Regions from separate parts of the Homo sapiens genome. Here region 1 is linked to region 2. Evidence: fine-mapped expression QTL. Tissue or cell type: whole blood. Region 2 holds a variant in brackets; the other region holds the start of a gene. All regions are shown on one strand. Distances are from middle to middle.

Region 1 (11,719 bases), 25 kb before region 2:
AGCACTGCCCAAGTGAGCCAGACTGCACATCCTGCCTCTCCTTGGAGGGACCTGCCCCCTTGGAATTCAGGATACTTGGTTGCCCTGTGAGCTCACCTCCCTGGTGAGCTCAAGAAAAGTGATGACTTTGTAGTGCATGCAGTCTTTTCTCATTGTTAAGTATGATAGCAAGGCTTTCTGCCTCCTGGATGGAAGGTGAATACTTCTTGCTGTCCTTAAGTCTTTCCTTCCACCGTCTCTCACCACCCATTCTCAACCTAACGCTACACATTTTAGGTTGCTTTTATAGCAACATTCCACTTTCAGGCACCAAATTTTGTTCCTGCCATTTGTTCCTATTGCTGCAGAACAAATCATCATGCTGAGTGGCTTAAAACAAAAATTATGATTTCTCATGCTTCCACGGGTTGACTGGTCTCACTTGGGGCCTCACGTGGGATTGAAGTCAGATGTCTCCTGGGGCTGAAGTCATCTGAAGGTTTGGCAGGTCTGAGCATCCAAGAGTCTCACTCACGTGGCTGGAGAATGATTAACAGTTCCCAGAGTTTCTTTGGCTTAGTCTTAGAAGTTATAGCTGGATGTGGTGGCTCACACCTGGAATCCCACACTTGGGAGGCCAAGGCCCAACATTTGAGCCCAAGAATTTGAGACCAGCCTGGCAACATAGAAATGTCCTGTCTCTGTAAAAAATTTAAAACATTATCCAGGCATGGTGACTACCTGGGGGAGCTGAGGCAGGAGGATCACTTGAGCCCAGGAGGTCAAGGCTGCAATGAGCTATGATTGCACCACTGCACTCCAGCCTGGGCGACAGAGCAAGACACTGTATCAAAACAAAGTCACATGGTGACATTTCTGCCATATTTGACTGGTCATACTGGGCCATCCCAGATTCAACATGGGTGAGAACTATGCAGGGTGTGAATATTGGGAGTCATGGTTCATTGGGGGCTATCTTTGGAGACTAACATCCTGCCTAACACTACATACCAAAAGGGACCTTTCACATTTAGGTCTTAAATCTATCTAACTATAAAGTTAACAAAAGAAAAGGGAGTATATTTTTGTAGCAGGGTGGGGAGAGGACTTATCAAATAAATTTTCAAATGCACAAAATTATAAGGCAGAGGGAAAAAAGATAAATCTTATTACACCAAAATATAAGATTTCTGCCCACAGACATCATGGATCTCATGCAAGAAGTCAGTATACAGATGGCAGAATGAGAGGAGATATTTGCAATATCAAAACTGACAAGCAATTAATGTCTAGATTTTATATAAACACCCACAAACCAACTAAAAAAAGAGAGCACTAAAAATTCTCAAAAATTGGCAAAGGATATTAAAAAGCAATTCACAAATAGTAACCCCCAAATGGTAACAAGCATATGAAGAGGTTCTCAAAATCATTAGTCATCAGAAAACAATGTAGAGTAAAACAATTGAAAGCGGCAGGAGGCAGACAATTTCCTAGGCAGATGGGGGTGGGTCCCCAGTGAAACCCCACCTTCAAGCCAAAAACAGCCTGGACTGCTGGTTTGGGATGAAACCCCTCAAACCAGGGTGAGAACTTCTGTTCCTGTTTGCCCACCCTTTCCTGATTGGTTCTTTCTGAATAATGCTTTTTAACCAATCAAATGTTGCCTTTTCTAATACTACCTACAGCCCGCCCCTCCCCAATCCTGTGCCTATAAAACCCCCTAGACTCAGCCACACTGAGATAGACAACCCCACCTTCTCAATCCCTCTCCACTGAGAGCTGTTTCATCGTCAATAAAATTCTCCATCCTCATCACCCTTCAACTGTCAGCATGACCTCATTCTTCTTGGATGCAGAACAAGAGCTCAGGACCCACCAAATGTGGGCACCCACAAAGGCTGTAACGCTGGCCCTCTACCCTCACTGGTGGAGGGCAGCTGCCCCACAGAACAGAAGCTGCAGCAGGGCCAAGCTGGTCCAGGAGCCACGGGCCAGAGTGGAGAAAGGGGCCGCCTGAGCTGCCAACATGCCGCTGTCCATCAGGCTGCAGATGGTGGAGATAAAAGAGCTATTTAGCACACTGTAACACCCCTCTCTGGGGCTTCAGGCACCCCTGCCTGGGTGCTGCCACAGTCTCCTTGGGGTGACACACCTGATCTGGCTGTGGGCCCCACACAGAGCCTGTTCCTGTGTCATGGCTCAGTGCAGCTGGCTGGACCCTGCATTCACTCGGTCACATGCTCCCTCCCGCCAGGGGCTGAGCATACAGTCGCAGTGGCCTTGTGAGCCATGGGCTGTAACACAAGCCAGATGGGGCCTGGCAAGCTGAGTAGATAAGGCACTCCCTGCTGCAACCTCAGCAAAGGGGTCAAGAAAAATCCTGCATCACAACAAGCTCTCATTTTATAGCTATTAGCCTGACAAAAAAATAAAAAGCTGGCTAATGGGAAGTGTGAGTATGTATGTGTAAGATGCATATGGAAATAGTACCCCCTCACACCATGCAGGAGAGAATGAGGACTGGTGTCCCCATCCTGGACATCATCTAGAACTATTTTGAGATACACACCCATGGGGGGAATTGCTGGATTTATAGGGTATGGATATACTTAAGTTGCCTAAGAAACTGCCCACAGCCCAGGGAGCAATTAGAGATGTTCACTGCAGCAGCATTGTTGTTTAACTCTGTGTACGTATGTGTTTGTGTGCCCACATGCTCACGGGCTTGGGAGGTGGTGGTAGCAGCAGAAAGTTGAAGGGAACCTGAGTGTCCATCACTGATAGAACAAGAAACCCATGGCAGATTCTCATTACAAAATACTAGGCTGCAGTTAAAAGCTACAGATTGAATATACATATAGCAACATGGGTAGATCTTAATTTTCCACTAAATACTCTGTTTTGTAAGAAACAGACTGAGAAATGTAATATATTTACATAATACCATTTACATAAATTTAAAAATACACATAGACGAAACAACACCACACATTTTGCAAGAACCTGTGCAAACAAAAATACACATTAACACATTAGAGAGGCTGCTATGGGCGGTGGTGGGGGGCGGGGAATAAAAGTGGAGCACAAGAATAAAAGTTAATAGAAAAATGTGAAATGTGAGAGGACTTTTCTAATCTGACTCTAAGACTTATTATAAAGCTATAATAATCAAGACAAGGTAGTGTTCTGTCATGACAGACAAACAGATCAATGGAACAGAAGAAAGGGCTCAGAAATAAACCCACATGTATACAGTCAATTGATATTTTACAAAGGTGCAAAGACAACTCAGTGGAGAAAGGAATAACTGAGTCGCCATGTGCAAAAGTGCATCTGGATCTATAACTTGAAGCATATAAAAATATTTACTCAAAGTGGATCACAGACTAAATGTAAAACCAAAAGCTATAAAACATAGGAGAAAACTTTTGATCTTGGGTTAGGCCAAGATTTCTATGTGTACAACATCAAAATAGAAATCCATAAAAGAAACATTTGATATATTGGATTTCATCAAAATTAAGAACGTTTGCTCTTTGAAAGGCACCATAAGATAATGCAAAGAAAATATTTGCAAATCACTGCCTGATCATGTCCTTATATCCAGAATAAAACACCCTCAAAACTCGATAAGAAGACAACCCAATTTCTTTTTTAATGGGCAGGAAATTCAAACATGCTATTCAATAAAAAAAACTTATCCTTAGCAAATAAGTACATGAAAAGACATTCAATACAATTACTAATCAAGGAAACTCAAAACCACAATGAGATACTGCTACACACCAATTAAAATTTAAAAGGCTGACTATATCAAGTGTTGGTGAGGACAGAGAACTGCAACCTTCATACACTGCTGCTAGGAATATAAAATGATACAACCATTTTGCAAAACAGTATGGCAGTTTCCTAATAAGTTATAAAAGTCCACCTACCACATGACCCAGGCATTCCATTCCTAAGTGTTTACTCAAGGAAAATTAAAACATACGTACTTTCGAAGATTTGTGCACCATATTCGCAGCAGCTTTATTTGTAATAGCCAAAAGGTAAACAACGCAAATGTCCAATAGTGAATCGCTAAACAAATTGTAGTCTATCTGTACAATGCAATACTATAAAATAAATTTTACTTAGCCATAAAAGGAAGAAACCATTGATATAGGCAACAACATGGCTGAACCCCAAAACAGTTATCCTGCCTAGTATATACTCTATGGTCCATTTACATAAAATTCTAGAAAATGCAAACTAATTTATAGTGACCTAAAGTACATCAGTGCTTGCCTGGCCAGGTGGTTTCGGGAGGAAGGGGTTACCAAAGGGCAAGGGAAAACTTGCAGGGATGATGATATGTTCATAATGTTGATCTCGGTGATGGTCTCACGAGGGAAACATTAAAATTTATCAAATTGTACACGTTGAATATGTGCAATTTATTGCATGTCAATTATATCCAAATAAGAGATTTTTATAAAGAAAAAAATAGGTATTCTGGCGCCCAGGGCCACCCAGCTGTAAGCGGCGGGGTGGGATTCCAACCCAGAAGCGGGCATTTGGAGCCCTCATGCTTCACCCTAGCTCCCTGAAACAAGCACGGAGGATGGCTCTGAGCAGCGAGGAAAGTGCTGGAAGCAAGCAGGCCGAGCGCGTCCCTGGCTGGGGACGTTAATCATTACCGGAGGGCGGCCCGAGCGCGGCCCCGCCCCGGGACGGCAGCCTGCGCGCCCGGCCGCCGCCTGCCCTCTCCGCTGGCCACCTGCTGCCGCCCGCGCCATGGTGAGTCCAGGGGTGCGCGGCCGCGATCGGGGCAGCGGGGCCGGGGCAGCCGCGGGCGAGGTGGGAGCGGGAAGGGGCGGGGGAAAGTCTTTTCGAGTCCCCTGCGGAGCCGCCGGGGTCCGAAAGTGGGGTCTCTGCCCGGCTCTCTGTCGCTGGCGGCGGGGAGGGGAAGCTGAAGCCCTGAGAGGGGCGGTGGCGGGTTCGAATCCCACCCAGTTGGGAGGCCAGGCCTGCCCTGACCCCGGCCAGTGCTTGTTCCGGGACCCTTCCGGGGGCGGGGCCTACGACCTTCCTGGGCCGGGGAAGACAGTCGTGGAGGAGTCCACGGATCTCGTCCCCTTGGTGGCCCGATTCTGCTTTATACTGGGGTGGGAGCGAGAGGGAGGCTGAGTTTGCGCGCTCGTGTGCGTGCCTGTCCGCTGCCCCTTCCCGCTGGCACTCTGGGTACGGGGTCTGCCTGGGACTCACGCTCTGCGCCGGTATGCTGGCCCCAGAGCCACTCCCCGCGCCGGCTTGAGGCCCGTGCCAGGCCACGGGGGCTTGGTGGCGCTGGAGCAGCCCTCCTCCCGTGAGCTTCCCCCACCCACCCCCGGGGCGGGGGCGGGGGCGGGGCCCTTGCTCTGCTGTAAGCTCGCGAGCTTCATCAGACCATTTCTGGTCCACAGGCCTTCGGAGCAGGCAAGACTGGGAGGGCCTTTTGATAGGAGAGGGACTTGGGGGAGGGAGGATGAGTGGGGCTGTTTGTGAGGGGCGCTGAGGTCCCAGAGATGCAGGCTTGGGAAATCGGTAACCACTCCCCACACCTCGCCAGAGGAGGCAAACGGGGCAGCGTCCCCCTCTCTGTCTCCAGAGCCGGCACCTGGAAGGTTTGTCAGTTCAGCCGCAGGCTGTGCGACCTGGGGGGTTCCAGAAGGCTCTACCGAGAAAGGGAAGCCTCCTAAGAGCTCACCTGGACTCACCCACCCCTTTAAGAGCCAAGGAAGTAAACAGTGGGCTCTGATGCTTTGGCTGACTTCTGGTTGTCTAGATACACGGACCAGGCGGTCAGCCACGGGGAGAAGGCCAGCTCTGGAGTAGAGACCTACCTACTGGGCAGATGATGCAAATCGCTGCTGCCATTCAATCCCTATAGTCATCCAGAGCCGAGGGGAAGAGAGGGGCCAAGCTACATCAGTCCAGAGAGAGCTCACGTTTTCAGGAGGGAAAACAGCAGGGAAAAAAGACGGACTTAGGAAAGCACTGCGATGCTTCAGCTACCCCAAATGCTACCAGGCCCATCACAAGCCTGCTTGCCTTAGGAAGTTTTTTTTTTGTAATGCAGATGACATTTGCTTTATAGCAGTGGAGTTTCCTAAAGTGTCCCATTGGCACCTCATGATGATCTGTGGAGGTGGAGGTTCTGCCAAGAGAGGTACAGCCACCTGGCTGGTAAATGGTGAAAGCGGGTCTCAAAACTCCTGCCAATCAACACATGGTGTCCAGTCTGCAGGCTGCCTCATAAAAGCTAAATCAACCTCCCTCACATTCCCTCCCCACCCCTAAGGGTATCTTTTCAATTCAGCACTCTATTTCTGCCCTGGGGTGGTGCTACTCTAGAAGCCTAGGTTCTGGGATCTGTTAAGCTCCTAGACCTGGATCCTCCTAGGATGAAACTGACCCTTGCTTCCTTGCTTTCTCTGAGGTTCCACTCATGGCCTGAATTGTGCCAATTTGGGCTGCCTTGAGGGCACTTCGCACATTAGGTAAATAGGATGGGGCACTAGGTTTGCCAGCTGCCTTTGGCCAAGTTCCTTCCACTTTGGCCTGAGCTTCCCAACCAGCCAGAAAAGCAGACGGAAAACCAGAGAAACCTAGCCCTGGCGGCTCAGGACCAGAGGCTGCCTGGGAGCATGACTGAGGACCTACTAGAGGTAGTGCCAACGGCGGTCAGCTGCAGTGTGGCTAAGAATGGGATGGACACTTATTTTAAATGTAGCTCCTTCGTCCAGCCCCAGCAATGCTGACACACAGACAACACTGCGCCATCACTGGCTAGGGGTGGGCGGGAAAGAACAGCAGACAAGTCGTTTCCCCTCTCTAGGCCTGTTTCCTCTTCAATACACGTGAAAGTTACGGTAGGGACGTGGGGTGCATATGATGAAGTACATAATAGGAAAAGGAAGGGGGGAGAGTCATGGGTACTCTTCCTGAGAGGTTGTGGAGTAACATATTTGCATCTGGGATTTATTTTGCTTTTACGCCCTCACTGATGTAATAATCTCATGGAGGGAAGGTCCGTAAGGCTTTGAGGGCAGGGTGGGGGAAGAGTGCTTCTCTGTCCCCGTCATATGAATTACATTGCTTTTGTGATTTCCCTTGTGTGTGTGTGGAGTGTTAAAACCCAAGACCTGAGGGCCTATCGGCAGACGAGCCTGGACCCCACCTCCTGGGCAGGGTGCCACCCTTGAGGCCTCCCAGCCTATTGCTCAAAGACCTGCTGCCCTTTGGTCACCCACGTCCAAAGCAGCCAGTGGAAGCTAAGTTCCCCTAAAGGTTGGAGCCCCTCTGTTTTGACCTATAAAGAGAAATGCCCTTGGGCCTCTGTTTTTTTCCCTCTTCTAGGCTGGCAAAGCACACAGGCTGAGCGCTGAGGAGAGGGACCAGCTGCTGCCAAACCTGAGGGCTGTGGGGTGGAATGAGCTGGAAGGCCGTGATGCCATCTTCAAGCAGTTTCATTTCAAAGACTTCAACAGGGTATGGCACCAGGGTGGGACAGAGTTTTCTGAGACGGGCTGATGGGGTCACCTTACAAAGCATGTTCTCTCCCTTCACGTCTTGTTAGCCAAGACTCTCAGACACCACACTCATCCAGTTATTTGGGCACTGTGCCAGTGGGGAAATTAATTTTCCTGTCTAACTCAGAAAGTATCATCTTTGGGGATTGGAGAGCCATAGGAGGATGTGTCTTGGGCTCTCCCTTCCTGGAACTTTTAGCAGCAGTCTTCTGAGGAGATAGTTCAAGTGGAAACCATGCACATCTGAAGACATTTGAACAGACGGCCAAGACTGGCCAGGCCAAAAGCCTGTTGTGGTGTTTCCACCTTGTTGACATCCTAAATAGCAAGACTTTCTTCCTACTGCAAGGACAATCTCTAACTCAAGCCTGAGAACCAGTGACAGGATGTCAAGGGGGAAATGATTATAGAGGAGTCTCCTGGGGGGAAGCTAATTCATCCTCCTGCGTCTAGGCCTTGAATTGGTGATGTCCAGAAGTCCTTTCTCTTAGAACACTAACCTGGCTCTCACTCCACTTAAATAGGCCTTTGGGTTCATGACAAGAGTGGCCCTGCAGGCTGAGAAACTGGACCACCATCCTGAATGGTTTAACGTGTACAACAAGGTGAGTGATGCTGTGTGCCTCTGTTGTGCTCTGCCCCCATCCAAATACTGCGAACTCTGACACATTCTGAAGGCTTTTGGACTTAACAATGAGCCTTCCTGACCCATAGGTCATCCACTCATCTCATTTCCAATCTCACTGAGATTGCACATGCCTAGAATCAACATAAATACCCCTGGGAAAAAAAAATCAGTCTTACTATAAAGAAATGCAAATTAAAAGATGCATGAGATAGTTGTGGTTAAAGTAGACATTTAAGTAGACATTAAGAAGGCAAAACCCAAGAAAGGAAAGGCTGTGGGAATCAGGCATACTTATTCAGTGTTCATAGCTCTAAATGGCTTTAATCTTGCTGGAGGTATGGAAGAATGAAAAAGTAATAAACTTGAACTAAGAATACACACATATTTGGGAGGCCGAGGTGGGCAGATCACGAGGTCAGGAGATCAAGACCCTCCTGGCTAACATGGTGAAACCCTGTCTCTACTAAAAACACAAAAAAATTAGGCGGGCGCGGTGGTGGACGCCTGTAGTCCCAGCTACTGGGGAGGCTGAGGCAGGAGAATGGTGGGAACCCGGGAGGCGGAGCTTGCAGTGAGCAGAGATTGAGCCACTGCACTCCAGCCTGGGAGACAGAGCAAGACTCCGTCTCAAAAAAAAAAAAAAAAAAAAATACAGACACATAGCCAACCTATCAAATTATTTGCTTAATGAATAGAAACAGTCATTAAATGTCTACCATGTGCCAAAAGCTCTGCTGGTCTCTGTTTATAAAAACAGTAAGGGTGGAAGAGGTCGTCTATGAATGGATAGTGTTTAGGAGTTGGCATTGGTTTTTGGTTTTGTCTTTAGCTTTTAGGTTGCTCTTGACATTCAGATATTAAGCTTTTATTCTATAGCTGAAGTCATGATTATTTTTGAGAGACAGCAAAGGGGAGATGTAGAAGATGTTGTTACAGACATGTCAGGAAGGAGTCCCCAGGAGAGATCGTACTGGCCAGCTGCTATTCTGGAGCTCCTAGCAGGGCTGAGCCCAGCAGCTAGTGACTCCCTCCTGTTCTTAAGTGAAGTCAGTGGAAGCAGAATTTCTGGTTTCATTTCAGGTCCACATCACGCTGAGCACCCATGAGTGTGCCGGCCTTTCAGAACGGGACATAAACCTGGCCAGCTTCATCGAACAAGTAGCAGTGTCCATGACATAGACCCTGCCCTTCCTCTTTGAATTCTTCCGGGGGAAGGGGTGACTGAACTGGGAGTCCAGGGAGGGAGCTGAGGAGCCCTTACCCTCCCACCACTCCCCTCCCAAGACCCAGCCGCCGCCGTTGAGGGCTGAGTCCTTGCTGTGGGATGTGCCAGTGTCCCCACCAACACCAGGAATTTAGACCTTTTCCCTGCACCACTCTCTTCATCCTGGGGGCTCTGTTACACTAATTTGAATAAACTCTCCCCTTTCTTTGCAACTTCCCAGCAACAATAATGATTTTCTTGCCAGGCCGTCTCTTGCTCCCTAATTCATTTCCCAGGAAGCTGTGATACAGGGTGAAATAAAGTCTTGTCTTAGAAACCAGGACCCTAAACCCCACACTATGTAATAGAAACACATGTGTTTTTATGTCTCAAATAAAACTATTATATCACTTGGTCTCAGGCTCTAGAAACTTCTTTTCCACAGGTCAATCCAAATTGGAGTCAATAGGCATTTAAATGAAAGCACTTCCTCTGTGCTAGGCACTTCCTCTGTTCAAGGTACTGGAAAATGACAGGGACCAGACCACCTTGCCTTCAGATTCATTATCATCTAGGGGATACCATTTGATTATCATCAAACAGGAACACAATTAACTATTACCAATTACCAATTAACTAGTACTAATTAACTATTACTAGAGTGAATTAATGCTAGGTGGCAGGATAAGAAATGAGCTAAAGGGAACGCAAGTGATTAATGGTGAAAAGGGCAAATCTGGAGGCTTTGAGTTATGCCTTGAAGACCTGGGTAGGATTCTTGGGAGGCAGAGATGGCTGAGAGAACACCATGAACACAGATAAGGGTGTGAAGGGCACAGGTATTATATGCATTGTGGAACCTATGTCTAGAAAGGCAGTCTGGGGCCATATTACAGGTTGAACATCCCTAATTTGAAAATTGGAAATCCAAAATCTGAAACTTTTTGAATGCCAACATGATGCCCAAAGGAAATACTCATTGGATCATTTTAGATTTCTGATTTTCAGATTAGAGATGCTCAACTTGTCAGTATAATGCAAATATTCCAAAATCCAAAATCTGAAACACTTCTGGTCTCACACCTTTCAGATAAGGGATACTCAACCTATATTTTCTTCCTGGCTGTGATGGCTAATGTTAGGTGTCAACTTGATTGGGCCATGGGGTGCCCAGGCATTTGGTCAAACATTCCGGGTGTGTCTGTGAGGGTGTTTCTGAATGAGGATAACATTTGAATCAGTAGACTGAGTAAAGCCGACTGTCTTCCCTAACATGGGTGGCCTCATTCAACCAGGTGAAGGCCTGTACAGAAAAAAAGGGCTAAAAAGGGCTGACCCTCTTCCAAATAAAAGGGAAGTCCTCCTGCCTGACTGCCTTGAGGTGGGACATTGGTCTTTTCCTGCTTTCGGACTTAAACTGAAACATCCACTCTCCTTAGGTCTCAAGGCTACAAGCCTCCGGTGTGCAACAATACCATCTGCTTTCCTGGTTCTCCAGCTTGCCAACTACAGATCTTGGGACTTGTCAGCCTCCATAATCACATGAGCCAATTCCTTATAAGAAATCTCTTTGTGTGTATTGGTTCTGTTTCTCTGGAGAATCATAATACACAGGCCTATCATATCAGATATGGCAGATCCCAAATCCTGATGGTCTCTTCAGTTTCTTAAAATCTTAGCAAAGTTCTTAGGGCTTGCCTGGTTTACTCCACAAGAGAGAAGACACAGGCAGCTTAGGACCTGGCAGGCTATTTATTACTGGAGCAGTTAAGAGATGGTTTGCACAGTCAGTTCCCCAGCCAGGAACTCTCTAGGACAGAATATTCCCACGCTGTCATGAAGAAGGGGGCACTAAGAGCAGCCTCATCTCTACCCCCACGAGAATGCCACACAAATTTTACCTCACATATGTCACTATGCAGAGACTGGGAAGCCTTCTTCCTAATAGTTCTCACCTGTGTCTCCTAACTCAAGTACTAAGCTGACTTGTAAATGCCGGGGTCACTTGGAACAGGAATCTAGCCATGTCACAACTCAGTCTGAATGAGTTGGTCCCCCAGCAAAGGCCAGGAAAGGGGCAGAGGCTGGAGGTTGAGAAATAAGCGTATTGTTCACAAGAGGGATTAGCAGGACCCCGTTCCTAGCATATATGCTAGTAAAGGATTATCAATACCTATATTGATGGCAAACGAGATTCAGACAGTGGTCTCCCATCTGCTCCACTTCTGACTTAAAATTTTCCAAGTGTGCTTTGATCTGATGACTGGAGGACTGAAGGACAGAAGACGCCAGATGCGGAGGTATGGACTATGCTGTTATGTTACATTCCTGCCTCTGCTTATTTTCATGGGT
Region 2 (11,719 bases):
CAGTATGCTTTCTGTTCCCCCAGAAGTCACCTATAATAAAGAAGAGATGCCATCTGTTGGGGGAGTCAGGAATGCCCCGGCTCTTCATGCCCTGATCTTGACAATGTTTGATACAGAAACAGATAAGGTCTTGGATGCATGCTGCAAGGCAGACACTGCCATGTCTTCCAGAAGGAAAATTTGGCTTTATTGGCTAAGCCTAATTTTGGCTCAGGTGAAGAATGAAAGCTACTAAATAATGAGCAGAAACTCAGCACTGCCTAGACAAATGCACACTTGGCCAGATCCCACCTATTCACAATCCATTTACATTTCTGTATTAATTTTTCAATTTTCAGATAAGATAGGGCATTTTATGCCATTCAAAAATATCAGAATTTTAATTTAAATTTTCAATACCTGTTAAAGAATGTGAAATTGTGATTACAATTCTAGTAAACTGTGCAATACACTAAAAAGAGACATTCAGATTTAACAAAGTAAACTGCTGATTTTGACAAGTTTGAAAGACAGAGAAAAGCAGAAGTTTCTACTTGATGGAAGTTTGTTGCCTTATCTGAAATAAAACAAAAATCCTAATTTTTTTTAAGTGAAGTGAAATGTTTTCCTAAAGTTTGGCCTAGCCCCTCTGATAAACACATTTCTTTACCAGAGTTCAAACAAAAAGACGTAGGGGTCTTTTTATTCATCTTATTTCCCTCACTGGACTATAAATTCATGAAAGTAGGGACCAGTCTGTTCATGACAAATTCCTAGCACCTGACATAGTGGCTGACACCTAACAAACCCTCAATCCATTTTTTTTTTTTTTTTGAGACAGAGTCTCACTCTGTTGCCCAGGCTGGAGTGCCATGGCATGATCTCGGCTCACTGCAGCCTTTGCCTCCTGGTTCAAGCGATTCTCCTGCCATAGTTACCCGAGTAGCTCGGATTACAGGCGCCCACCACCATGCCCACCTAATTTTTGTATTTTTAGCAGAGACGGGGTTTCACCATGTTGGCCAGGCTGGTCTCAAGCTCCTGGCCTCAAGTGATCTGCCCACCTCAGCCTCCCAAAGAGCTGGGATTACAGGTGTGAGCCACTGCACCTGGCCTTCACATTTCTTAATGCCTGACTTGACTCTCAGTAAACCTTGACCAACACAGGCATGTCATAGCCACCTGGCTATTTTTTTAAAAAATAATATATGAGAATGAATCATTCCAAAACAAACAAAAAGCCACAATACTAAACTAGTTGGACAACTTCTTAGACTTACCATCTCTGAAGATTCATACAATCTTTGAAAGGTTTTTTCAATTTACAGGTGAGAAAACTGAGCCCTTGAGGAATTAAAGTGTTTCACTCAATGTCATACATTAGCATCTGTTGATAAGAAGTAAAACTTTCTACGTTTTCATATTTAGTGTAGCTTAATACAAGATGGAATCAGAGAAAGTGACCACTGAACTTTGCTAAAATAATATCCACACATAGAACAAAAATACCATTGGATACAAAATCCCTGTGGCCAGGAGTTATATGGAAGATGAACTGAGAAAAGTCATTTTTTGACTCAGGAAGTCTTTATGAAACATGTGACCATCACCAAAAAATAATGCACCCAACTTGGGCATGGGACACTTGTAGGTCACTACATTTCTACGCTGCAGAAGACAAAGTGCTTACAGCTGAGGTCAGCTCTGCAAATCAGCAGCATGTCCTGTGGTTTAGCATAAAACCTCAGAATGTCACAAGAGTCGTCAAGCCAGCTGTGAAGAGTCGGGGAGGGACCAGCAAAGTCCAAGTCACCAGTGCAACAATCTCTTCGTAAGGTCCAGTAATGACCTAAGCAATAATATTTCCAAATTCCTAGTCACCTGCTTCATGTGTCCTACTTTTAGTCCAATAACTAGTCAAAACATCATTGTTATGCAAACACCAGTGGACTTTTGACTGTAAAAGTAGGAATACCTAAATTCTACTTTTTTCTTTTTTGTTTTTTTTTGAGATGGGGTCTCAATCTTTCACCTAGACTGGAGTGCCATGGCGTGATCTCGGCTCACTGCAATCTCCACCTCCCAGGCCTAAGAGATCCTCCCACCTCATCCCCCAAAGTAGCTGGGACTACAGGCACACCCCACCATGCCTGGCTAACTTTTGTATTTTTTGTAGAGACAGGGTTTCACCTAGTTGCCCAGGCTGGTCTCGAATTCCTGGGCTCGAGCGATCCACTTGCCTCAGCCTCCCATGGTGCTGGGACTACAGGCGTGAGTCACTGTGCCTGGGCCTAAGTTCTACTTTTAATATGTATTTTTGATTCTGTGTTTTAAAATGCTATTACTCTCCCACTTCTTTCTACCTCCTATACCCAAAGAGAAACAGGAATTTTAACTGTGAAGTAAGAAAATGGAGGCCTCAGTAACTATTTGTTATGTCATTCAACTTCTTTCAACATGTATAAAAACTCTCACTTTAACATATGATATGTATTTCAGAAAACAAGAGAACAACATCTACTTGGAAAATTTTCTTTCAGATGCTGTTTGGATCTGATAACATTAGCACAAGCCAAGAAGAATGTTTCACATGGTAACCTAATTTCTTTTAGTATGTGAAGTTACCTCTATCATTGTAACTGAGACAAATAAAGTTAATAGAAGGAAAGATAGTTTAAGGCTGAAGAACAAAGAATGAGAGAGCTTACAACTCTTAACTCTTAGCTAGGAATAACCTAAAGACTGCCCAGCCATTTGGTTTTATCTTCTGGCTTCCCACCTCTGAACAGTGAACTCTTTCTTCACTAGAAGCAGCTCATCCAGAGAGAGAAGTAAGAAGCTAAGGGAGGAGTGGGGGAGACAGAGTGGGAGAGGGAAAAAGACAATACCAGTGCTGATTAGTTATTTTATAAAAGTCTAAATATTAGAAGAGCCTGGGAATCAGACTCTATCCTTCTTCTGATCCCTCACACGTGCTGAAGATCAAAATAATAGAGATATGGTTTAATTGCAGCAATGCAAAAAACCCCTAGGCCTGGACTTCAGGAGTAAGATGGGAAGAAAAAAAAAAAGGGTGAGTGCAGGGAGAGAAAAGAGTCAAAATCTACAATAACAACAACCAAACAAGGAAAGAGAGATAATCTAGGCAATAAACTTCAAATATTGGCAATCAAAAAAAAAAAAGAAACAGTGAAACAGCAGAGAGCAGAAGTAAGCAAAACACTAGTTTCTAATCAGCCCTTGAAACTGTACCGCAAAGTCAGCAAAATCCTGAGAATTTTCCTTTATACCCCCAAATCTGCAGAGGCAAGCTGAGGGGGTTTCCTTATTTTCTTCTTCTTCTCATGAGTGAGTGGTAAACATGGCTGCTAGGGAGAAATGAGCAAAATGAAGAGAGAACATCAGGATTGGCTCTTTAGAGTGAAGACTTCAGTGAATTAAATAATCAGAGCTCAAAGGGTATATTATCTCTTCCAAATAAGAGAGTGAACTCTGATAGGTAACTTTGAAGAGAATCTCAGAATAGACCTGGTTATTCTAATACAGATAGAACAAAGCTTTGGCTGAGCTTTGTCCCCAGCCAAATGGTCTCAGACAGGAAGCACCCACAGTGCATAAGAACAATGTCTGGAGAATGCCACCCCAAGATGAGAGAAAATGGCAAGGAAACTATGCAAACAAACTAAAAGGCAGGGGAAAAGGTAGTATGTAGCATGCAAAATAAAAACCCAACACAGAAGGAAACAAGCTAAGGGATGAAGGAAACCCCTTATAACTTTCTCACTATAGGAAAATATCATAAGAACATGAATTTAAGAAAACAAAGAGTTCAAAACCTAGACCATGAAACAAAAAGAATGAGCTACAGACCTAAAAAAACAAAGCCAGTAGCATCCATACAGAACTAACAAAGACATTAGGAACAGCAAGGAATAAAATAAACATTGCCAAGAATAAAAATGCTGACTTCAAGGAAAAGGTCTGAAATAAGTTTATTGAACCCAGATTTAAAAAAGACAGAGATTGAAAGATCAATGCCACTCCAAATGTGGAGAACTGTGTTCAATCTGGCCAGAGGCAACCAAAAGTCATACAGAGAATGACTGCGATGGTTGGAAGTCTGTGAAATCATATGAAAAGCGGAGTAACCCAGAAAAATGTGGGGCAGAGAAGATTCAGGGAGAAAGGGGCTTTCAAA[T/C]AGACGAAGGTCTGTAACATGGAAAAAACAATTATGGAACTTCTATTTCTAGCAATATTATATACCTTGAGCAACCTTCCTAACTGAAATAACTAAAAAACTTGATAAAACATCAAAAAAAAAAAATTTAAACCTATCACTAACCTAACATAAAGAAACTTGCTAAACCCCCAAACAAAGCAAAATCAAGAATCCTGCAAGATAAGTGAGTGGCAAAACTAGCTTTCACCCTGAGGTGGCACCAGACCCTTCAGACTTCAAACTCCTACACTGACAGATGAGCAAAGGATGGACCAGAAGATACATTAGAGACTGCCCAAGATAAGGAGTCCAACAGGAGATGGCTGGAAAAAGACCACACTCTACAGTGTACAAGAAATAAATCCCACTACTGCAAAAGAGAAAAGAAAAACTGTTTTTCTCAACCCTGATGTTCAAGTAAAGAAAAATAGCAATCTTTCAAGAATGTGTAACAAGGAAGCCTTTATGTGAGTTTGTGGTCAGAATTCACACTACCTCTGTGGTACAAAATGACAAGCTAAGGATTTGACTTAATTTGGTTCCAGTGTGGTGGCAATCCCCAGCAACTCAAAAAGGTATGACAAATCTTCTCTGGAAGAAGAGAACTTCCAGACTTAACTTCAATCTAGGCCTCAAAGAATCCCTAGGTTCCCAGAAAAATGAGTGGCTCATAAAAAAATAAATAAATAAAATAAAATCACAAATATAAGGAAACAAGGAACCATGACTGAAGCCAGCAGAATCAGGTAAGGCTCATGGATATTGGAATTATCAGACACAGAATACAACATATTTATGTGTAATATATTTAAGTAAACAAAAGTTAAGCCAAGGAAAAGGACTATAAAAAACAACCAAGCAGATTAAAAAAAAAAAAAAAAAAAAAAGACGGCCAAGCGTGGTGGCTTACGCCTGTAATCCCAGCACTTTGAGAAGCCAAGGCAGGCAGATCACTTCAGCTTGGGAGTTCAACACCAGCCTGGGCAACATGGTGAAACCCCATCTCTACTAAAAATACAAAAATTAGCGAGGCATGGTGGTGCATGCCTGTAGTCCCAGCTACTCAAGGGGGCTGAGGTGGGAGGGTCGCTTGAGCCCAGAGAGGTCAAGGCTGCAGTGAGCTGAGATGGCACCACTACACTCTGGCCTGAGCAACAGAGTGACACCCTGTCTCAAAAAATAATAATAAAATAAAAGGAGAACTACAAAACAGAATTCTTTAGAATGAAATTAGAGTAAATAAAATTGAAAAGCCCAATGGGCTTCTACTGTGTCCGGAATTGGTGGGTTCTTGGTCTCACTGACTTCAAGAATGAAGCCGCGGACCCTCGCGGTGAGTGTTACAGCTCTTAAGGTAGCACGTCTGGAGTTTGTTCCTTCTGATGTTCGGATGTGTCCGGAATTTCTTCCTTCTGGTGCGTTCGTGGTCTCGCTGGCTCAGGAGTGAAGCTGCAGACCTTCACAGTGAGTGTTACAGCTCTTAAGGCAGCGCGTCCGGAGTTGTTCGTTCCTCCCGGTGGGCTCGTGGTCTCACTGGCTTCAGGAGTGAAGCTGCAGACCTTCGTGGTGAGTGTCACAGCTCATAAAAGCAGCGTGGACCCAAAGAGTGAGCAGTAGCAAGATTTATTGCAAAGAGCGAAAGAACAAAGCTTCCACAGTGTGGAAGGGGACCCGAGCGTGTTGCCACTGCTTGCTCTGGCAGCCTGCTTTTATTCTCTTATCTGGCCCCACCCACATCCTGCTGATTGGTAGAGCCAAGTGGTCTGTTTTGTCAGGGCGCTGATTGGTGCGTTTACAATCCCTGAGCTAGACACAAAGGTTCTCCACGTCCCCATCAGATTAGTTAGATACAGAGTATCCACACAAAGGTTCTCCAAGCCCCCACCAGAGCAGCGAGATACAGAGTGTCGATTGGTGCACTCAGAAACCCTGAGCTAGACACAGGGTGCTGATTGGTGTGTTTACAAACCTTGAGCTAGATACAGAGTGCCGATTGGTGTATTTACAATCCCTGAGCTACACATAAAGGTTCTCCAAGGCTCCACCAGACTCAGGAGCCCAGCTGGCTTCACCCAGTGGATCCCGCACCGGGGCTGCGGGTGGAGCTGCCTGCAGGACTGGAGCTGCCTGCCAGTCCTGCGCTGTGCGCCTGCACTCCTCAGCCCTTGGGTGGTCGATGGGACTGGGCGCCGTGGAGCAGGGAGTGGCGCTCGTCAAGGAGGCTGGGGCCACACAGGAGCCCACGGAGGGGGTGGGAGGCTCAGGCATGGCGGGCTGCAGGTCCCGAGCCCTGCCCCAGGGGAAGGCAGCTAAGGCCCAGCGAGAAATCGAGCGCAGTGCCGGTAGGCCGGCACTACTGGGGGACCTAGAACCCCCTCCGCAGCTGCTGGCTGGGTGCTAAGCCCCTCATTGCCCGGGGCCGGCAGGGCCGGCCGGCTGCTCCGAGTGCGGGGCCCGCCAAGCCCATGCTCACCGGGAACTCTAGCTGGCCCGCAAGCGCTGCGCGCAGCCCTGGTTCCGGCTCACGCCTCTCCCTCCACACCTCCCTGCAAGCTGAGGGAGCCGGCTCCGACCTTGGCCAGCCCAGAAAGGGGCTCCTACAGTGCAGCGGTGGGCTGAAGAGCTCCTCAAGTGCCGCCAAAGTGGGAGCCCAGGCAGAGGAGGCGCCGAGAGCGAGCGAGGGCTGTGAGGACTGCCAGCACGCTGTGACCTCTCACTACTTATCACCAGGCTCCAGCAATTTTCAATTTACAGCCAATCTTTCATCTACCCCCAACTGCCCCAGCCATCGTTGCTATTGAGTATCAGTTGTCCTAACAGTTATGCCTTTGTAGGTAATCTATTTTCTCTGGCTGCTCTCAAACACCAGTTAGATGTGTGTTAGCCTTCTCATCCTATCCTTTGCATCTCTTAGCCTCTCTTTCATACCTTCTATTTCTTTGTCTCTCTGGACTGCATTCTGGTTAACTTTTTTTTTTTAATCTGTCTTGTTCCATAAATGTGATTTTGGAACTATGTAATTATTTTACCTAGTTTTAAATGAACCAGGGCTCCTTGGATAAATGGCTGATTGAAGGCCTGGAGCAGGAAATGGACAAAGTGAACCTGAACCTGGAATATTTCGTCAAAAAAAAAAAAAAAAGGAAAGAAAGAGAAAAAAGGCTTTCAAAGATTACTTGGGTCATGTAAATGGACCTAGGAGCCAATATGATGTTTCCACTGGCCAAAGATGGATGAGGCAATTTGTACATCAATCTGAATAAGAGCTACAATGGATTGAGGCACACACAGCATTCCACAATTTATTCATCTGTGTCCTGTGGATAGGCATTTGAATTACTTCCAGTTTTTAGCTATCATGAATAACATTGCTATGAATATTAATGTCCATATATCCTGATATATATGTGTACTAATTTTTCTAGAGTATGTCCTAGTAGCAGAATTTCTGGGTCATAAGATATATGTATCTTCAAATTTACCAGATAAGGCCAAACTGTTCTGTGGCTATTCACTCTGGCCTCTTACAAGTTCTTCAAGAGTCTAATGGCATAGGAGAATATACTGTAAGTACATTATCATCTTCCCTCTGAAAGTCACCCTGTTCACCTCAGTACTCTAAGGGAAACTGCTGCTGTATTATGGGTGGTTCTGTTTTTAACAGTTTCAGTATTTTGCTTTGAAAATGAATGCCAGGCATATCACCTTTATTACTACTAATATTTGAACATGATGATTTTCATGGCGCCAACATATTAGAAAAACAAAACAAAAACAATGCTTCCTGGAAAAAAAAAAAGAAACTAAATTAGGTGCTCTTCGAATGGGCCCTTCAATAATTAAATCTGCAGTCTTTATAATGACTGCAAATATGATGAGTATCTGATAGGATTAGCACCTCTAGGACACCATTGCAGCATATTGAGTTAAATCTATCTATCCTACATAACCTGAGATTTCGTTTTTTCTAAAGACAACAGATCTAAACAGAAGTTTATCTATCATAGTTTACGAAAACTAACAACCATCTACTTGAAAGAACAGGTAAAACAAAGAATCCTCATGTGTTTCTTTAAATATAATGATGTCCTCCCCCTTTCTTTATGCCTAATAGCAACTAAATGAGGTTCAGTTTACAGCAAAATAATAAATTAAACTTTGGCTCAGGTAAAACCAGAAGTACACTAAAAACACTGCTGGATGGAACAACAAAAGTATACACAGATAAATAGGGGAATGGTAGGTATGCAGGTGGGGGATGAGGGAAGAAGCGGGTAGGGAGGGAAAGAGTGTAGAGAGCAGATATGGCAACATATTTACATTTAGTGAATCTAAGGTGTTCTTTAAGCCATCCTAGCAACTCAATGTAGGTTCAAAGTTTTTCAAAATAAAAAGGTGAAAATAAAAATATCTAGAAGAATATATACCAAAATGTTGACATTGTCTAGGTTACAAAATTACAAGTAACATTTAAAACTGCAGTTAATTAGGATCTTTCTACAATGATCAAATATTCCTTGTGTAGTAAAATGACCTTTCTACAATGATCAAATATTTCTTGTGTAGTAAAATATTTTTAATATTTTTTATTTTTTAAAATATAATTAATATTTATTAAAAACTCTTCTATTTTAACCTAAAAAATAAGGCTATTGGATGCCCCTTGCATATACTTACACATCCACACGAATCTGGTCCCCCATTGAACAGGGAACAAGCTATCCTCACGATTTCTGCCTCTATCTTGCGTAGTCCTGGGAAGATATCTGGATGCAGGGGGTTACTCCATGCAAAATCTCCATAAGCCTGCAAAAAAATGCAAGCAGATGTGAAATCAAAACTATTACACTATACAGGACAAAGAATCATGCACTAAACAACAGTTTCTAAGTATTAGGCACAACAATATAAACTGGAAAAAAAGATAAGATATATTCCTCAACCAAAAGATCAAAACATAGCAGAGGAGACAGACATGTAAATAAATAATTTTACAATGTGATGAGGAAAGAAGTATAAATATGGTTAAAAGCGCAGACTATAACACCAAACCGACCCAGGAGGAAGTCTAAGCTTTGCCTATTACTTTCAGCTGTGTAGGTCACATAATCTAAGGTTGTTTCTTCATACGCAGAAGTTGTTATGGTAGCTATCTTCTAGTGTTCTAGCAATAATTAAATAACATAATGCATGTGAAGCACTTAGTAGAGTGTCTGGCACAAAGCAGCTGTTGTTATCGACTGCAATATCAGGTGTGTGTACAGAGTGCTAAGGGACCCTGAAGAGGGAACAACTAACATCCTGAGTGATCTAGAGGTGTCTGCTGAGTGGAACTTTGAGAGATGAGTAGGAATCATCATTTGGAACAAGAGGAATGATGGAAGGGAAGGAAAACAACGTAAAAGCATGACACATTTAGTAAAGAGAAAAGGCAGGATTAGTGTTTATGTGGGAAATGAAGAGAAGTAGTTAAGAAAAAATAAGTGGGAGCTGGCTCATGAAGAAACTTGTATTCTCTGCTGCATAAGAACCTGAGTTTCATCCTGTAGATAATGGGAAGCTACTGAAAGATTTTAAGCACAGAAGATCAGAGCATTACACCAACTTATGCAAAACCTGCCATATTTATTTAGTAAGGGACAGTTTCATATTTATAATAATCAAACACAAAGACCTTAGAGATCATCAGTACAACCCCAATTTTATATGATGAAGTGGAGTTTCAAAAATAAATATGAGGGCCGAGTGCAGTGGTTCACAGCTGTAATCTCAACACTTTCAGAGGCCAAGGCAGGAGGATCACTTGAGGCTGGGAGTTGAAGACCAACCTGGGCAACAGAGTGAGACCCCATCTCCAACAAAAAAATACAAAAATTAGCTGGGTGTCATGATGCACGCCTGTAGTCCCAACTACTCAGGAGGCTGAGGTGGGAGGATCACTTGAGCCAAAGAGGTCAAGGCTGAAGTGAGCCATGATTACACCACTCCACTCCAGCCTGTGTGACAGAGTGAGACTTTGTCTGTAAAAATAATAAAATAAAATAAAAATAAATTTGATTAGAAATGGAAGAAGCTAAGAATGAGAATTATTTGAAGTATACATGAGACCACTGCTCATCTTGGGTCACATGATTTGAGAAAATTATGAAAGAGTTTCCCTATCTTATCTCTTCTTATCAAACAAAATCTGTCTCACCACAAAAATCTCATCTGACAGGACTACCTTCCCTAGTAATCTGCCTTCTAGACAGGACATCTGCAAAGACTGAAAACATAAATAACATTTTACTATTTTACAGACTGAAGATGTCTTTGATAATATTATACATATTCGCCTATGTTTGGGTGAAGAGAAACTTTTATGGTTTTATTGTACCAATAAGCTTTCCTTAAGTAATTTTTCTAATTACAAAAGTAAGGGAAAAAAAGGAGGTCATGTAAACTGGCACAGACCTCACAGGCTTCCCTCAAGAACTGGACACTCACCTTCACAAGGAGCTCAGTGAGCTTCTCCTCCCCACTGTACACTGTTCCAGAGGCTCTCCCCTCTTGCCAGAAGGCGTCTGCAGAGAAAGGTAAGGTCACTGGTCAGTAAGCAAGAATCTCTGGGAAGACAGGTTCTGATAAAGAAGAAACAGGAAGAAACTCCTCTGGATACAAAAGAAAAAAATGTTGAGTGGAAACCCAACAGCATTCTTATAGCAAATCAAGAAAAAAGTTCAATAGAGTTAGCACAATAAAATAAAGATGAAAAATCATTATTATCAGCAATGTGAAAAAGATATTAATAGCATTTAGCTACAATAAAGGCAATCTGATAATAATGTTGTCCTCATCCTCAACTGCCTTCTAACAGCAGGAACATTTGCCTTTGTCTATACTTATTTTTTGTTCTCTATATGGCTTTGGAGTGGCCTTTTTCTGCAATAGCTTCCTTCTTCTCTCCTTTCCTATCCAGTCCTAGGAATTTTGAGAACTATTATGAGCAGAGTTGGCAGAAGAAAGCAAAATGAAAAGTGTGAAATTTCAGCACACTATCATCAGAGATGAAACCAGCAAACAAACCACAATGAGGTATAAACCATGAGCACCCCGGTCTCAGACGCCGGCTCCCTTAAGCCAAGCCTGGAAACCCACATAAAACTAGTTACCTGCTTCCAGCAGCACACGCTGTAGCATATTCAAGATCAGGAACACAGTCAACATTGGGATAAACCTCCTTTATCCCAGTGTGGAAAGAAAAGTAAAGTTCCTGAGTAGAATATAAGATCTGACTTTCCACTTTCCTCTCTCCCCGAGACATTCTTCATTTTACCCACAAATTTGTTGATATGGGTGTCTCAGGTCCTTGTGCTACAATGCAGCTGTGCCCTATTGAAAGTGGGTAGTGAGAAAGCTATTACGGAAACACACCAACTAAAAACTGCATGGAGCCAAGGGCTCTCCAAAGCAAAGATCTTCAGCTCTTGAGAACAGAAAACTAAGTGGTAAATATACAGACAAACTCATTCTTACAGCAAT

Evidence for each region. PIP is the estimated chance that this variant, and not a neighbour inherited with it, causes the effect.
Region 1: PCBD1 starts here. The variant in region 2 is fine-mapped to the expression of PCBD1 in whole blood (INTERVAL, PIP 0.91).

The regions. Positions count from the first base shown.
Region 1 is chr10:70,881,573-70,893,291 of GRCh38, reverse strand. PCBD1 (pterin-4 alpha-carbinolamine dehydratase 1) reads left to right here and starts at 4,727. Exons shown (of 4, transcript NM_000281.4): 1 at 4,727-4,761; 2 at 7,363-7,494; 3 at 8,060-8,140; 4 at 9,244-9,782. The coding sequence starts at 4,759. The coding sequence ends at 9,342. RefSeq lists silencers at 4,611-4,860, 5,191-5,470.
Region 2 is chr10:70,856,656-70,868,374 of GRCh38, reverse strand. It overlaps SGPL1 (sphingosine-1-phosphate lyase 1), which reads right to left. Exons shown (of 15, transcript NM_003901.4): 6 at 10,685-10,761; 7 at 8,876-9,004; 8 at 1-30. Among named protein-coding and RNA genes, the nearest start is that of PCBD1, 26 kb to the left of the region's middle. The variant T/C (reference allele first, on the strand shown) is at 4,178.